2 separate regions of the Homo sapiens genome follow, and region 1 is linked to region 2. The links come from fine-mapping of genetic effects on gene expression. A gene starts in region 2. The other region holds a variant in brackets. All regions are shown on one strand. Distances are from middle to middle.

What was found. PIP is the estimated chance that this variant, and not a neighbour inherited with it, causes the effect.
Region 1: its variant is fine-mapped to the expression of CACNA2D4 in unexposed skin (GTEx, PIP above 0.99).

Annotation. Positions count from the first base shown.
Region 1 is chr12:1,792,846-1,801,668 of GRCh38, reverse strand. CACNA2D4 (calcium voltage-gated channel auxiliary subunit alpha2delta 4) reads left to right here. Exons shown (of 38, transcript NM_172364.5): 30 at 25-95; 31 at 551-626; 32 at 1,231-1,283; 33 at 1,617-1,669; 34 at 1,974-1,994; 35 at 4,134-4,251; 36 at 5,889-6,001; 37 at 6,288-6,370; 38 at 7,910-8,823. The coding sequence ends at 8,014. LOC105369602 (a long non-coding RNA gene) reads right to left here and starts at 1,230. Exons shown (of 4, transcript XR_931549.3): 1 at 746-1,230. RefSeq lists enhancers at 3,633-4,537, 4,538-5,443, 5,555-6,122 and silencers at 4,465-4,694, 4,795-4,924, 5,265-5,594. The variant G/T (reference allele first, on the strand shown) is at 4,457.
Region 2 is chr12:1,915,240-1,924,062 of GRCh38, reverse strand. It overlaps CACNA2D4 (calcium voltage-gated channel auxiliary subunit alpha2delta 4), which reads left to right and starts at 5,411. Exons shown (of 38, transcript NM_172364.5): 1 at 5,411-5,816. The coding sequence starts at 5,590. RefSeq lists an enhancer at 6,762-7,338.

The DNA.
Region 1 (8,823 bases), 120 kb after region 2:
CTCTCTGCTGTCCCTCTCTCACAGACGGGAAGATTTCTGGGGGAGGTGGATGGTGCTGTCCTGACCCAGCTGCTCAGCATGGGGGTGTTCAGCCAGTAAGTGGGGCACACTCCTCCCCAGTCCAAATAGACACAGCAAACCGAGAGCTGACGCTAAGTGGTCCTGGCGGATCTCAGGATCCTGACCTCCAAAACCCACAGTGGGTGCCCCCAAAGAGCTGCAAAAGCAACCTTTATGGAGCCAGGGCGTCAGCATGATGTGGGGAGGGCGTAAGGGCATGTGGGCATCCCTGGGAGGGGCTCCGCAGCTCAGACCCTAGAGGGAAAACCGTCCAACTCCGAGGGCAAAAGCCATTTGCTCTTCATTGTCTTTAAACCATTCCAAGTGCAGAAATGTAATTTTCAGCATGAGCTGTATTCTGATCTGCTGTCCTAGCTCAGGCGCCCTTGGGAATTGCGGTAAACGGATGCTCTGCTAGTAAAGCCTCCTGAGGCAGGGGCAGGGGGTGGGGGTGGCTTTGGACTCATCACAGCCCGCTTCTGATTTTCAGAGTGACTATGTATGACTATCAGGCCATGTGCAAACCCTCGAGTCACCACCACAGTGCAGCCCAGCCCCTGGTCAGCGTGAGTGTCACCCAGCCCTTCCCTCTGCCAGCCAGCCAGCCAGTCCTCTGCCCTGTCCTGGAATGAGGTCACTGGTCCCTGTTCTCACCCACCTTGGGTGTCTGGCCCCAGGGCCCTACCTTGACCATCTCCATCTTCTGCTCAGAGCCACTGCTCTCAGTCCCACTCCCAGGCAGGCCTCTGGGTCTGGCTTTGGGGCTTCAGAGGGACTGCTCTGGTAGTTGTGACACAACAGTGCCTCTGGCGGAGACAGAGAGAGCAGCCTGCCCCAGCCTCAGCCCCTGACACTGCCGCTTGATCACCAGGGATCCTCAGCAGTGCAGCACCAGGATGAGGGCTTGACTCGTCTCCTGGAGGGGCATGTCCAACCCCACCCGAGATGTCTGACCTGCAATAGGCATTTCCCAGCTAGCTCAGCTCTGCAGGGCAGGTGGGAGGTGGGGGGATGGGGGGTGCTGGGCTGCTGGCCTGTGCTCTGCTGCCCCTGCTCCCAGTGGCAGGGCAGCCCACTCTCTGGTCTCTCTGAGGGTGGTGCTGGTGGTGGGGGGGGGGCACCCTCACCCTTGGACCTAGGTGCGAGCGGTGTGCACTCTCTCCTTCCCAGCCAATTTCTGCCTTCTTGACGGCGACCAGGTGGCTGCTGCAGGAGCTGGTGCTGTGAGTGGGGGTAGACACGGGGCTGGTGGAGGGCTGCATGCGAGGGTGGCTTAGGAGGGTGTCCTTGAGCAGGAGGCTGCAAGGTCTCCAGGACAACCCACTTGCTACCAGACCCCGGGGAAGGAGGGCACAATCCCTGGGCATGGACGCCACCTCTTCCCTGCATGCTGCCCCTGGGAGGGACCTCATTGCTCAACCAGAGCCCTCAAGCAGGGAAGAGGGTGTCCTGGAGGAGAGGGGATGGGCCGGGGGCTGTCAGGGATACTCCAGCTCCTTGGGAACCCAAGTCGGGAGGGCTCAGAGGTCTCCGAGATTCAGTCCTGTGTCTGACAGGTTCCTGCTGGAGTGGAGTGTCTGGGGCTCCTGGTACGACAGAGGGGCCGAGGGTGAGTGCACGGAGCTGCAGGGCCATGTGCTGAAGAGCAGTGGCATTTTGGTCCACTAACGTGAGACCATTCCCTGTGGGGTGGGTGACAGTGGGGATAGGTGACCCTGAAGCATCGTTGTTCACATCTCACCCTGCGTGGCCTTCTCTCATCACATCCCTCACTCCTGGCTCTGTGTGTGACATCATCTTGGGACACCGCCACTCCATGTGCCATCATCACCACCCCATGACATCCTGCCCTCATGTGCCACCATGTTTTCCTGTGCCGTGTCCACCCTGTGCTGGGCTTATGTTCCGGCCAGCCAAAAGTGTCTTCCATCACTGTAAGTAGCCCAGCTGAGGCCATCCCTGCTGGCGGTGGGTTGGGGACGCAGCAGGAGCTACAAAGAACCCACCCTCCATGACCTGTCCCAGGAATGACCCCAAGCAGGGCTGAGCTCTCCTGGTTTAAAGTACCATTCCTGGGGGTTGGGGGACTGGGGAGTCTAGCCCAGTTCTCATCCCACATGAGGACGGTCAGGCCCCAGGGAAAATGAGAAACTCCAGCCTCCCCTTGGGTGAGAACACGTAAGATTCCAAGAGGAAGCCGGTGGTGTGGCCGGGTGGCCATGAGCCAGTATGAGTGAGCAACCTCCAGCCCACCCCTTGGAGAAGCAAACAGCGGCACCCCAGCCCTCAGCGGGACTCCGGGTTCCAGGGGCCCCAGGAAGCTCTCAGGATGATTCCCCTGCGGGACCCTGTGTCTGAGGACAGAGTCCCCCAGAGGCAGCAACCATGAGAGGCCCCAACACAAAGCCCGGTGGCTGTGGCCACACGTGCAGGGCGGCAATGAGCCTGGCCTTTCAAAGCACTCACTGCCCGGGCGCCTGGGCCCTCCATGACTGCAGGAGGCCATCTTGCCTCAGCGGGCTCTGCTCAGTTCCTCCGTGTTCCTAGAACCTTTGCCATGGGGTTCCAGAACTTCCCACCACCTGGGCTGTCCCCAGCTTATCCCATCTCTTCATCTCCACTGTGGTCCTCTCTCTGGCTTGCTCTTCGTTCTCTTCTGCTGGCCTTGGCTTGGGGCTTCCTCTGCCCCTGGGCTCAGGGCAGTTCGGGCTGTGTCTCCAGACTCCTTCTGGACTCACATCCGCGATCGGGTGGGGCTGCTCTGGGGTGTTCACAGTCACTAGGTGTCAGTGACAGGACACTGTCCCCTCTGTCTCTGTCAGCAGCTGCATCTTGCAAAAGTTGAAGATGATCCCCCTCAATCTGCCTGCTCAGAATTTCTCTTCTCTGGGGTACCTGTCCCCTGGAGCTCCTCCCCCTGGTCTGGCCTACACAGATGTCAGTGTCCCCAGTGAAGGCGCACTGGACTTGGAGTCCCAGGCCGGGGCGTAGGTGCTGCAGCCCCTTCCACTGCGTGACCCTGGGGACGCCACTCAACCCTGCCATTGTCAGGCAGGCTTCTGTGCCCAGCCCTGGGGACAAAACTCACAGCCCTGGCCGCTGTGGGCTTGCTCCTCTCGGTGAGAGTTTTCTGCACGCCAGCTAGTGTCCCCTCTGGGTTTCCAGCTCTGGCTGGGAGCTTCTGGATTTGGAAGCTGGGGAGACCCATGCTCTCCTGTAGGACTCTGCATGAGCCTGGGAAGGTAGCTCACACCTGTGCTCCCTGCCTCTAGGTCTATCCCTGGGGGCCACAGCCAGGCCCTGAGAACAGAAGGGCCATGCAGACAGCCTGTGTGGCAGGGCCCTGCTCTGCCATGTGCCCACCTCAGGAGGCTCCGGGAGGGAACGGACTCGGGTCCTGCAGAGCGGGGCTGAGGCACTCGCCTCCACCTTTGGTTGAGTCCACTGTCCTTGTCCCAGGGAGCTAAGGCAAATCGCGCAGCCCCCGAGGAGTCCCGCACCGGGTGGCTGTGGCTTCTGGGCTTCCGCAGCCCCAGGCCTGGAGCCCACCTGCCCGGCTGCCCCCACCGCAGGCGCTCAGGCTCAATGGGTGGAGTGTGGGCCTGGCTGTGCGGGAGAGCAGGGCAGGATTGCCCAGGAACTGCACTGCGTCTGTCCACAGTGAAGGGAGGGGTGGTGGGCCTAAGTACCCCCAAGCCACCCCTTGGTGCCCCTACTGCCTCTGCTCCCCGCTCAGACCCTCCCCCGGGATCTGAGTGCTGGAAGGGGCCCTGGAGATGGTGCACTGCCCCCAGCTCAGTGAGGGCCAGGCTCCCCAGAGGAAGCGCTTTCCCTCCACCGAGGCTCAGGGCCCCTGCGGCGCTCCCCGTGCCAAGCCACCCTCTCCAGAGACTCCGGGTGTCTTCCCTCCCCTCACCCCCCGCCCGGCTCCTCCCACGCGTGTCCTGAGAACTGCCTGAGGAGGGACCCTCTGCAAATGCACTGGGGTGAACTCTGGCCCTGGGAGTGCCGAGGCGAGGTCACCGCAGGCCAGAGGCCCCTTCGGTGGCGTGATGTCCTTTCTCCGCCCGCAGCCCACAAACACAAGAAGCAGGACCCGCTGCAGCCCTGCGACACGGAGTACCCCGTGTTCGTGTACCAGCCGGCCATCCGGGAGGCCAACGGGATCGTGGAGTGCGGGCCCTGCCAGAAGTAAGACCGCAGGGCGGCGCCGCCCGTCCCGCCACACTCCTCCCGCCCTCGGCAAGGCGGAAGTGCGGGCAGGGCCCCGGAACCCCCGGGAAACGGCTCCACAGCCGGGAGGAGGGGATGCGTCTAAGTGCAGAGCCCACGCTCCCGGGGTCTTCCCCCGCCGTCCTCAGTGGAGGAGACACGCAGGAGGCGGACGGTCTGAGGC[G/T]GGCAGGACGGCTGGGGACCGGGACAGCCGGGATGGGGAGAGGTGGTCCCGAGGCCTGACCCTGTGTGTCGAGCCCACCCCGCCGAGGCCGCAGCCGTGACCCCACGGCGTCTCTGGGCGAGTGGGCCCTTCGGCGGGTCTCCCCCAGCCCTGCTCAGGCGGTGCCCAGGGCGGTGCCAGTGCCCGCGCCTGAGCTGCGTGGGGAGAACTTGGAAGGCAGAGGGAGTGTGAGAAGAGAAGGCCGGAAGTGTGCGATGTCCTCGGGTCGCTGGGAGCCCCGCGGGCAGCCTCTGTCAGGCTTCCTGCTGTGTGGAAGCCGCTAGTTATAACCCGCCCTGGCCCCGGGGAGGCAGGGAGGCCGCGCGGAAGGGTCTCTCCTGCTGACCCCCCGCACCCAAGCCCGGGAGGACCCCCACGCTGGGAATGCGGCGGCCTCCTCGAGGGTCGCCTCAGCCAGACGTGCCGCTCGCCAGGCGGTCCCTAGACCCCCGGGCCCGTGGCACACCATTTAACAGTGCGGCACCTGCGGCGCTGGCATCGGGGCTCCCTTCTCCCCCACTCCCTGCGCGTCGTGCTGCGCGGGTTTCACCCCGGGTTCTGTGCAGCGTTGAGGGCTGGGGTTAGCGTTCCCTGTGCACTTGTCGCAAAGGCTCGGTGCGAGGATAGAGCCAGCGGGCTCCGGAGTGAAGCGAGGGCTTCAGAGTAGACACTCCTGAATTGAAAACTGGCTCTGCGCTCCCCCGCTTATGACCGTGGGCAAGTGACTTCGCCTCCTCTAGTCTCCATTCTCTCATCTGCAAAATGGGCACAACACCAGCCTCATACAGAGCCGTGAAGGCTGAGAGTATACACGGCTGTGGTGTGCACGTTGGGTGTGTGAGACCGCCCATCCCAGGGGAGGCGCTCGGTAGGCGGCCGCTGGGACTGCTGGGAAGGCCGTGGGCCTGGCGGGCGGGCTCCGCCCCACTCCGCGCCACTCCTCGCAGGGCGGCCTCGCCGAGCGCGGGGCCACTGCGCCACCTGGTGGCCAAGCTCCAGCGCTGCCGCTTCGCCCGGGCCTGCCCCCGCCACCCTCACCCAGAGCAAGTGTTGCCTCGCCCGCCCATTTGCTCCGGACGGTCTTGATTTACGCCTGTCGTCCCTGCATATATTAATAGCAACTCTGCACTCTCCAAAGCGGCCCAGTTTGGACTTCCTCACTGTCTCCAGTCTGCTAGGAAAGGAAATGCAGCAGCAAAGGCTTGTGAGCAAAGCCAGTAGGACTGAGCCATCTGCCAGGCCCGTTCCCTTAGCTGCCCCGACCCGCCCTGCCTCATGGTTCCGGGCTTCCCTGCCACCCTAACTCCACACTAAAGTCTCCAGAAGTTCCTTCCCTAGAAGCCCTTCTCGTGGTCGCCACGGAGCCATCCTCGACTCCCTTTCTTTGCTGCAGGGTATTTGTGGTGCAGCAGATTCCCAACAGTAACCTCCTCCTCCTGGTGACAGACCCCACCTGTGACTGCAGCATCTTCCCACCAGTGCTGCAGGAGGCGACAGAAGTCAAATATATCCTGCAATGCTCGGGGATGTGTGCGGTGGGGGCGGGGGCTGTAGGAGGTGTCTGTAGGGCTCAGATTTTGAGCAGCGGGGCCAGCCTCCTTCACCGCCCGTGTCCTCCACAGGGCTCCGTTATTTGTTCTCTAACCCTTCCCTGGGCCCCGGTGCTGCCTCCTGACCCTAAAGCTGCTTGCAGGGCAACTGGTGGCACCAGAGCAGGTTCTTCCAGACCTTTTTCCAGTCTGCAGAATGGGCTCCGGTCCTGAGATATTGACCTTAACAGTGGCTTCTGCACATAATGCCTCTGTCAAATGTGACCGGATGCGCTCCCAGAAGCTCCGCCGGCGACCAGACTCCTGCCACGCCTTCCATCCAGAGGTGCGGGTTGAGGCGGATCGAGGGTGGGCTGGATTTTCATCCCCAAACCCTCTGTGCCTGGGTCTGTGCCCCTGCAGACAGGAGCATATAGGGATGCCAATGAACACACCTGTGCCTGTGCTTCTCGGGGGAAACATTCGCGTTTATGCCCTGTGACACTGTGATATAATAAGAAACAGATCTTTATTTAGTCTTTGTCCTGATTCCTGGCAAGCTCCTAAAACGCTTGTTATTTCCTGATTAGGGTGATAGGTGCATCTTTTGTTATAGTGTTTGGTCTTAGTCCCTGGTTCCTTCACAGGTGCCTCTAAGACCCTTGGAATGATAGAGGTATCTTTGTATGCTAATTAGATGACTGGTGGCTGGGGGCCCTAGACAGGATGAGAGCTGGCCACAGGAAACACCAAGTTAGGATTAGAGGGTTGGGACTTTTGGCTCCAAGCCCCTGGCTTCTGGGAAAGGAAGGGGGCTGGAGACTGAGTTGATCACCAGTGGCCAAAGATTTAATCAATGATCATAATGAGGCCTCCATAAAATCCCCGAGCCACTGTGTTTGGAGAGTGTCCGAATTGGTGAAAGGGTGTGGGAGCTCTGCGTACCCCGTGCCTTGGCCTACGTGTCTCTTCCACTCAGCCGCCTGACCTGCGTCCTTTATAATAAACGGGTCATGGTGAGGGAAGCACCTTCCTGAGTTGAGTGAGCCACGCTAACAACTCACGGAGCCTGAGACAGGCTCATGGGAACCCTAGATTTACAGCCAGTCTGTCAGAAGGACAGGAGACCTGGGGCTTGCGATTGGCATCTGAAGTGACGGCCACCTTGTGGGACCGAGCCCTGTAACTTGCGAGCTCTAATGCTAACTCTCAATAGTGTCAGACTTGAATTGAGTTTCAGGACAGACACCCAGTTGGTGTCCAGAGAGTGGGGTGGGAAAAACCCTTCACATTTGTTGAAGTGCTGGTGTGAAAGCACAGCAGAGCCCCTGTGTCATTAAAATACGAAGTCAACCAGGATCCCAAGGTGCTTTAACGAAGAGCCACGCTTCCTAGGGCTTGGGCCCTAGGTGAATTAGAATGCAGTTTTCCCATCTTGTCCTCATTCCCGCTACACTTAGTTCCGAATGATCGAGCAATGTGAGGGGGCCGTCACGTGGATAATAGTCATAGTGGCTGGTACGGATCCAGAACCCAGACCCAGGTGTCAGGCCCTGAGCCGGGTGCTTCATACAGTCTGGTCTGCTGGGACCAGAAACCCCCATCAGAGATGCTCCCAGAGTTGAGGACATTCTGAGAGGATGACCTCGCAGCCACTCCAAGCCTGAGGGCAAGCAGAGAAGGCCGGTGCCCCCCTCCCAGGCTGAGGGGCCAGCCTTTGCTTTTCCCCCAAAAGGTAGGGGCCTAAGAGAGGTAGCAGTGCTTCCCCGGCTTTCCAAAACTCCCCTTTCCCCAGGATTTTGGCCCAAATTAGTGGTGGAAGCCCCTCCCTTTTTGAGGGTCCTCCTCTGAGCGCCGCGCTGTCACCTCTGCTCTGCGTTCGCAGGAGAATGCCCAGGACTGCGGCGGCGCCTCGGACACCTCAGCCTCGCCGCCCCTACTCCTGCTGCCTGTGTGTGCCTGGGGGCTACTGCCCCAACTCCTGCGGTGACACCACCCAGCCTGACCTGTGTTTTGGCAAGGTGATCCTTCCAGAGCCATCCCAAAAAGTCAGCACTGACATGGGATGCAGCTAACTGCAGTTGGGTCGCCCCCAGGCCAACGCTCCTCTCAATCCTGGGCTGGTGGCCCCTGGCTCCGGAGAATGCTGGATGGAACAGGAAACCAATCACCTGGCACCACTTTCAAGATGCTTCATGGTGCCCGGTACCATCTGCCCTAGGTCTCAACATGAGCATACTTCTGACCTAACCTTCCTGTCTCCTCTTCGGGAAGCCAGCGTGAGCTCAGCTTGGACCAAGACAAAATAATTTAGTTCTTCCTGTACTCCAGAGTCCAGACCCAGCCAAGAAAGGGTCAGTTGTTTCTGACCCTTTCTGTCGGAGTGGTCTCTGGTAGAACCCAAGGACTTCTGGGTACTGAGAAGCAGCAGCAGAATGAGGCCAAATGCAGAGATGAGGCTAAGGCAAGAATATGCCCCAACTAAAGCATAGATTCCCCAAAGTGAGGCTCATGGTGGGAGGCCACTCACCTTCCTAGCTGCTGCTCGAAAAGGTTTTGACTGTGTTGGGGTGGGGGTTGGGTAAGGGAATGGTCAAGACTGAGAAAGGAATGAAATCCATTCAGGAAATATCGACAGGGCTACACGTGATGTCCCCAAACTGCTGCTATTGAAGAACTTCCCAAAACTTCTTTACAAAGCCCTAAAGGAAAGTTTGCATCTATGAAAAGCCAATAGGCTGAGACATCCAATTGCTGCATGGAAATTGATGTACATTCAGGGGACGGCAAAAATAGCTG
Region 2 (8,823 bases):
AAAAAATTGCCTGGGCCATGATGAAAGGCATTAGGAGTCTGAAATGCACTCTCCCTTTCAAAGCTCTGCAATCCAGCCAGACTGGCATTTTGGAGCGATGGATGTGTGAAGAATGGGAAGCAGTCTCTGGGGGATGAGGAAGTTGGGAGGGTTCTGGACTCCTGGTTTTGCCCCGGGCAGCTCTATAGCACCCCCCACACACCTCTTTTTTCTCTCTTCTTTTAAAACATTGTGCTAAAATACACGTAACTCAAAATGTACCATCGTAAGCATGTTTTAGCTCAGTGGTGCTAAATACATTCATGCGCTTGTGAAACCACCACCACCCTCCATCTCCAGAACCCTTTTCACCTTGCAGAACCAAAGCTCTGCACCCACTAAACACTAACTCCCCACTGCTCCCTCCTCCAGCCCTGGGCACCCACCATTCTGCTTTCTGTCTCTGTGAATCTGAGAACCACGTATCAATGGAATCATACAGTATTCGTCTTTCTGTGACTGGCTTATTTCACTCATAATGTCCTCAAGGTTCATCCATGTTGTAGCGTGTGTCAGGATTTCCTTCCTCTTAATAGTTCATCATGTGCAATACCACGTTTTGTTTGTTTGATGACACTTGGATTTATCCATGATCCATGTCCATCCGTGGTGGACACCCGGGTTGCTCCCACCTTCTGCTGTCGTGAATCACACTGCAATGAATAGTGGCGTACAAATACCACAGAAGGCCTTCGTGATGTCCTGTGTCACTTGAAGATGAAATGAGCCGCCGGAGACACATTCGTAAAATGAACGGGAAATGAAAGCCTTTGCCTGGCTACATGGGGGTTTCCAAACTGACCCTGGGGCCCTGGGGCTCCTGTTCAAAGGCCCCAGAGAGCGGAGGCGGAGACAAGCAGGACTTGGCCCAAGCGCCCTCACCTCCACCCAGAATCACCCCCCTTTCAATCCCTCCTTCATTCCAATCACATTTTTATTTCCTTGTGCTGAGGGACTGGGCATACAGCAGGGACAAACAGCCCGCAGGCCCTGCCCCTTATGGAGGCTGCGTGCTAGAGGAGGAGGCCTGTATATGGCACGTCCCATGATAGCCACTGAGGAGAAGAAAGATGCTGTGAAGAAGGACAGGGAACGTCAGGGGTCGGGCCAAGATGGTGGATCTTGTAGCCAGGAAAGTCTTCACTCATTAAAAAGGTGATTTTCAAAAAAAAAAAAAAGGTTTTTTAATGGAGAAGTAATTCACATGCCGTAAAATTCTCCATGTTAAAGTTTGCAGCTCGGTGCTTGACAGGCTATTCACAAAGCCGTGCGTCACTGCCCACCACTCTCTCATTCAAGGACACTTTCATCATAAAAGGTGGCGTTGAAGACCTTGAGCCGGACGCCTCCTGCTGGCCCCTCCGAGTGCTCTCCCTGCCCTGGGGGGCTGTCCTGGGGGGGGAGCGAGGGCACGCGGATAAGTCCCTAAGGTTCCCCGGGTGGAGGCACCAGCAGGAGAGCGGGGGAGGCAGAGGGTGAGTGGGTGTCCACGGCCCCAGCCCTCCCACGGGACTGCTGTGGCTGGCCGCATCCCTTGCCTGGCGGCCACAGTCCCCCCCATACAGCCTGTTCTCTCCAGGGTACAGTGGCTTTCCCGTCCCCGTCCCCGTCCCCCTCCCCGAGGCTTAGGGGCTAGCTCCCGCGGTTTCCAGCCCTGGCCACTGCAGTGTCCCTGCAGGACTCCGTCCACACCTCTGTAAATAGCCTCTCTGTTAAACTCGTCTCAAGCTGCCCGATCCAGGGGTACCAGCTCTTCCTGCAGGAAACCCGACGCCAGACACTGATGGAAATGAGAGGGCCGGCCACGCAGGGGGAAGCAGGCAGACACAGCCGCGGCGCGGACTGCAAGCTCGGGGGTCAGCCGCACCGATGGGGGGCGCGCCTGAGGCACCCAAGGAGCAGCGGGAGCCCGCGCCCAGAGAGGCGCGGTCAGGAGAAGCCAGCTCCAGCCAGGTGGGGCCTCGTGGCTGTGAATTTGGTGGCATTCATCAGCTTCTTAAAATTTGTAATTTGGAATGATTTTTAAAATCAAGCCAGCTCCAGCCAGGTGGGGCCTCGTGGCTGTGAATTTGGTGGCATTCATCAGCTTCTTAAAATTTGTAATTTGGAATGATTTTTAAAATCAAGCCAGCTCCAGCCAGGTGGGGCCTCGTGGCTGTGAATTTGGTGGCATTCATCAGCTTCTTAAAATTTGTAATTTGGAATGATTTTTAAAATCAAGCCAGCTCCAGCCAGGTGGGGCCTCGTGGCTGTGAATTTGGTGGCATTCATCAGCTTCTTAAAATTTGTAATTTGGAATGATTTTTAAAATCAAGCCAGCTCCAGCCAGGTGGGGCCTCGTGGCTGTGAATTTGGTGGCATTCATCAGCTTCTTAAAATTTGTAATTTGGAATGATTTTTAAAATCAAGCCAGCTCCAGCCAGGTGGGGCCTCGTGGCTGTGAATTTGGTGGCATTCATCAGCTTCTTAAAATTTGTAATTTGGAATGATTTTTAAAATCAAGCCAGCTCCAGCCAGGTAGGGCCTCGTGGCTGTGGTCAAAACTGTGGCTTTTCCTCTAAGGGAGATGGGCAGCCCTGGGGGCTTCGGAGCAGAGGGAGGGAGCCACAGGGTCTGACTTACGTTTGAAAAGAGCCTTCGGTTGCTGCATTAAGAATAGATGATGAGAGGCAGGGTGGGGAGGCCCGGTACCAGACAGGGGCCCGCAGGAAACAGGTGGGAAAGCTGGTTTCCAAAGGACTCCTTGGAAAGGGGTGGATGTAGGGGACGCAGGATGCAGCCCAGCTGTACCCCCTCCTCCACCAGTCAGGGAAGGAAGCCGTCGCTGGAGCCTGAAGGGGAAGTGGGCAGAGGCAGCCGCCTGGAGGCCGGCGGTGGCCTTGGGCTGAGAAGGCCTGGTTTTGAGGCTTCCTAAGTATGTCTAAGGGGCGCACAGGACACAGGCCGCCAGTGTGTCTGCGAAGGACGGAGCTTTCCAAGCCGCTGTCACGCTTGACACAGTAGAGGGAGGCGAAGGCTTTCCGGACAGGGTGCTGGAACCCCGTGGGGGCAGTGGGAGCTTGTATAATGTGGGAGTGGTTACCCATAAAAGAAAAATAATGCAAATCCCAGGTACAAACATAAAAATAAAAGTGAATATTTATTATCGAAAGCAGGATCTCGAGAGATATTTGCACACCCGTGTTGACGGCAGCATATTTCACAGTAGCCAAAAGGAGGACACCACCCCAGGGTCCATCGATAGAGGAACGGATGCACAAAATGAGGTCTATCCACACAATGAAATATTAACCCATCATTGGTCACCCCCAAAAAGTAAGGAAATTCTGACACACGCGGCACCGTGGGTGAACCTTACCGACATTGTGCTAAGTGAAATGAGCCAGTCATGGAAGGACAACTATGTGATGACTTCCCTTCTGTGAGGTCCCTAGAACCGTCAACATCAGAGATACAGAAAGGAGAGTGGTGGCCGCCAGCGGCTGGGGGAGGAGGGAACGGGAGCTAGTGTTTAATGGGTTCAGAGTTTCAGTTTTACAAGATGAACGAATTATAGAGATAGATGGCGGCGAAGGTGGAGCAACATGATTAATGTATTTAATTACACTAAACCGTACACTTAAAAAGATGATTAAGATGGCACATTTTATGCCACAATAAATATTGGGCCACAATAAAAAAGTTGAAAAAAGGTGAATATTTATTCAGTTTTAAAAATCATTCCAAATTACAAATTTTAAGAAGCTGGTGAATTCCACCAAATTCACAAAACCTAGAGAAGTTACATTCTTTTTATGTATTGACTGCCCAGTGTGCCTCTGTAGTATTTTTTCTAAATGTGTTTGATTTGTAATCCTCAAAACATGTACAAAATTTATGTGAAATTAAGGCATTCATAGGAATCATTTAGATGCCTTTAAAAAATACATTGTATTCAGCCACAAAACTGTGCCACCAGATTACTCTGATACTACAGCACTGACTTATTGATGAATCTGTGTAGGAGTTTTGTCATCAGAACACTTGCTTCTGCAAGCATTTCTCTGCGTTGGTGGCAATTTTGCTTACCATTTTGCTGGAACCACCAGATTTTGTGAAGACACAGTGCACCAGTTACACTAAGAAAATAATCTGATACGGGGACTGCATAAAATCTATGACTTCACCCCCGGAGAACCCATGTGGTACTACTACTGGTTTGGGCTCACAACACAAGAATTTTGATCAATTCTAATTTGTGTAACTCTCATCAGAACACAAAGCAATGTACGGTGTAATTATATTCTTTCAATATCCACTATTTTCCTAACAGGAGAGAACTTCTGTCCTGGCCAGGCCTTGGTGAGAACCAAATCCTCCACCAACGATGTTACCTGTGTGGCTTTTTGTAGATTTTCTGCAGATGAGCTCCTGACTGTTACTTTGCCCTCCCCACCACACATGGCCAGGGTGGGTGTGACAGCGTGCGCTCACATCACGGCCCAGCCTCTCTTGCTGCATCTGCTGGTGGGATGTCCTGTGGGATGAGTGTTCCTGGAAGCCCTGCCTACACTCAGCTGGAGGTAACTTCTCTGTACAAAGAAGTCACTGTGAACCATGTCAGCATATCCCACTAAGCCCAGATTAAGTGTTTCCCCAGCTCACTTTCCTCTTAACTGGATCCCCCAAGTGCCCTCAGCCACCCAAACATCATCCAACTAAGAGTCCCTCAGACGGAAGAGAAGTTGGGATGGAAAGAGACAGACAGTCTCAACCGGTTATGGTTAAACTATCTCAACTTTTGCATATTTTACAAAAACATTTGGCCACAGGAACACATTGCTAGGGCCTCTCCGGGAAAGGGGGGAGTCTGTGGATTCAGGGGTCCTGAAGCTTCATCAGTTGCACAGCAAATGCGTCCCCAGCCCCGCCCACGAGCAGCTGAGATGTGGAGGCGTGGGTCCACTGACTTCACCTATGACCTATGACCTGTCCCAAAGGCACCAGGCCTGGAAACACCAGCCAGAGTCCCAGCTCTGCCCCTGGGACTCCCCGGGCCTCAAGAGCCTCTGCCAAGCAGGGATGAGGACACACCCCCACCTCAGGGTCAACAAGAGATTTGTGGGTCAATCAGAGTACTGTGCAAACTCAGCTGCTGTCCTCTGGCCATAGTCACAGCAAGCCCTTCCTGGGTCCAGAAGGTGGTTCCACAGGAACGGGGCTGCCTCTTTAAAGCAGAGGGGTGCACTATAGCCCTGAGGGAACCAGCTGCAGTTGTGGTAATCTTGGGAGGCAGCTCCCCACCCCCTGCCACCCCCTCCCTGCTGTCAGGAGAGGATTAGAGGAGAGGCCAGCGGATTAAAGGGTTTCATGTTGCCACAGCCTCTCCCCCAGTCCCTGTCTCCGAGGCCTGCTTGCTAGGTGGGGCGACTCTTCTGTGAGCTGCAGCTGTGGGGCAGAGAGAAGCCCTCCCCACCCAGGACTGAGAGGCTGGAGACCCCAGGCTCGCCAAGGCACGGAAGACAAAGGCCTGGGGCGTCCTGGGGTCTGGGAGGAAGGCAGACAGAGCTCATGGTCTGTGGCTGCTCTGCCCTCCTTCCCCTCCCCAACCCCAGGCCCACCATGCCTGCAACTCCCAACTTCCTCGCAAACCCCAGCTCCAGCAGCCGCTGGATTCCCCTCCAGCCAATGCCCGTGGCCTGGGCCTTTGTGCAGAAGACCTCGGCCCTCCTGTGGCTGCTGCTTCTAGGCACCTCCCTGTCCCCTGCGTGGGGACAGGCCAAGATTCCTCTGGAAACGTAAGCATCACGTTCAACCCCACCCCAAAAACCCGGTCACCCTTTCCCACTTTCTTCCCGGGCTGGGCCTCCATCCTCTGCCCACTCCTCCCGCCCCTGCCCTCCCTCTGGGCTTTTCCCCAGTGGCTGCGACTGACCACTCTCTTGCTGTAAAGCCCTTTGCTTCTCCGGCCTCCTCTTTCTCCTCCCAAAAGCTCTGTGAGTTCTGGAGTCCCACCTGCCTCTCCCCAGGAGCCGGATGGCTTTAGGAAGAACTGATCATCAGGGCTGCTGTCTTCCTGGCCTGACAAGCAGCTTCTGGGACACCTGAAGGGCGGGTGCTCCTTCAGGATAATCGCTGAGATGAGGCAGCCTGGAGGAGCCGGGTTATCTCAGCATCGCAGCTCCCCGAAGCATTTGGCAGGAAATGCGTATTTTGACATTCCAAAAAGGGGAAGCAGTTCTGAACCCACAGAACGTCTCATGCGCACAGGAGGTGGCTTGTCCAGGAACTGGGGAAAAAAATGGATTTTGGTGGCCGCAGTCTTCCCTTTCTACACCTTTCTGCCTCCTTCCAACCTTGATTCTCTAGCCGGCCATTAAGACCGGCTCCAGGAAAGAACCCGGTATCAGTCATGTGCACCTTGGTGTACATGTAAATTACTGTGCAACCTCTCTGGGGTGTCTGTGTTTTAGGCCCTAGCTCAGGTGGTCCTAGGAAGGAAATTTCCAATACATGTGGGTAGCAGAGCCTTCTAGACTGTAGGTGCTACAGACCCCATCCTGTTTACTCCAGCCGCTTGAGCCCAGCACCATAGCCAGGCCACCAACAGAGCCACCTGCCAACTGCATGTCTTAGCAGGAGTGGGGACAGGGAGCCTAAATGACACACCGTGCCTGTGCTTAGCCTTTGCTGACCAGTGGATTAGGCAGCATCGTTTCCCATCGAGCCGCATAGCTCTCCTTGTTCCCTGCCTGGCACGGAGCTGGGCGCTTCACAAATGACACCGTTAGTTTGCAGAGCCATTCAGTGGGGGCTTATTTTTATCCCTATTTTGCAGCTGAGGAAACAGAGGCCCCGAGAGGTCAGGTGACTTCCCCAAGTTCACAAGGCCAGGAAGTGAAGGTGCTGGGATTTGAACTCCTGTCAGCCTGGACTGCACTTTCACCATTACACCCGCCGCCAGCCCGTAACGCTATCTGTTGCTGCAGGAGATGTTCAGAACAATTTTCATCCCCAGAACACACACCAGCTGATAGGAGAGGGCCAACTCCAGGAGTGGGCTGAGGGCCAAGTCGGGGTGGCTGGAATCCAGGCCTTCAGGGAGGGGGGCCCCAGCGGCCATCTATGCAGAAGCCCTGGGTGCTGCCAGAGACAACAGCCTGCACACAGCCTCATCTGCCTGCCCAGGACTTGGCCCCACCTGTCCTCACTCCCGCCGAACCTCTCTTCTCAGTCTTTCCCTCCAGCCGGGCTTCCACCTCCTCCCAAGTCTGTTTCCACAGGGTTCCCAAAGCCCTCCTCATGCCCAATCCAGGAGACATTCCTGGCCTTGTCACCCCAGACCCTGTTGCTTGGGACACACAAGCCCCCGTCTTCTTTTATCCCAGTCCTTGACTTCCGTGGCACTGCGCTCCGCTGGGCCTGCATGGGCACGGCTTATCTCTGCTGTCCTCAAGTGCTCCTCCTCCTCTGCCTGCCCCGGAGGTGGGGGGTGCTCCCCAGCAGCTGTCGACGCTCAGAGATCTCACGCTGCACACTCTCCTTGAGAGAGCCCTCCTGCCCTCAGAATTTCAATCCCTACCTTTGCATCAATGACTCCCAGCCCTGTCTCTACCTACTAGACACATACCCAGTGCTTATGGGCAGCTTTTCCTAAACATCATGTGAGGTTTTAAATTCAGATTTGTGTCTTTCAAGGTAAAACACAATTGGTGCCTTCTAGAGTTGTGCAGTGCACAACCTTCCCAATGGTACTTGGTAGCTCTACAACGGGAACCTCACATTCAGCAGAGCCCAAGGTACACACATCACTTTTCACCCTCCTCAGCTCATTCCCCCTGCCCTTCCTGATAGTCTTAATTGTATTCAGTAACAACACCATCAGGTCAACAACCCACACTGGAAGCCCGGAAGTCACGTTTTACTCCTCCAAGCTCTTCTGTACTCCCGACCTAGAATCCTCTCCCAGACCCCTTTGCAGGCTAACCTCTACCAAACTTCTAACCTGGAGCTCAGATCTCCCTCCCCAGGGAAGCCTTCCCTTATACCACTACCCCTCCCCAACCTTCATGGGCACCTTCAAACATGTACTATGCTACCCGCATGACAAAGCTGTCCCTGCAAGGGTGGGGACTGTGGGGTGGCTCCAGGCTGCCACATGGTAGGACCTTGATAAACATTGGTTGAGTGATGACTGCTGATCTTGAAAGGATCGCACAGGCAAACCACTTCCGCTCCATCTGGAGAGGCTCAGCCCCAGCCCTGTGTACCTGCCCCCAGGACCCCACCAGCCTGGCCAAGATGGTGGGATTGTGGTGCATTTCTGGGGCATGGGCGAGAGGTCGGGGCTCCCCACTAGGCTGCCTACACAGAGGGTGAGGTGTGGCCTCCTTATGCCCTCCTGGCCTGCCCTGCCCTCAGGCTCAGCAGTGGCAGCTCAGAGCCTTTTCCTGCTGTGCCCTTGCCTCACGCGTTCTCTGAGGTTTCAACAGAGGGTTCGGCAGCCCCCAGTGGCTTTGAGTGGAGTGCACTGGAGGGAACGATTTATTGAGAGGCCACAGCTGTGGCCAGGCAGGTTGTCCTTTGTCCTCAGGGTCCTCCGGCCCTGGCCTGAGGCTGTCCACTGCCTCTCCCCTCCTTCTCTCCTCTCAGTCTGCCACTCTCCAACCAGAGGCCCTGGAAGCTTGGGGTCAAGCTCAGTCCTGGGCTCGTCAGCCCGGCCCCACAACCCTCAGCAGGAGAACCTGCCGAGGACATTCAGCACACAGCAGTGCAGCCGCTGGGTCCTGAGGGTTCTCCGCGTCT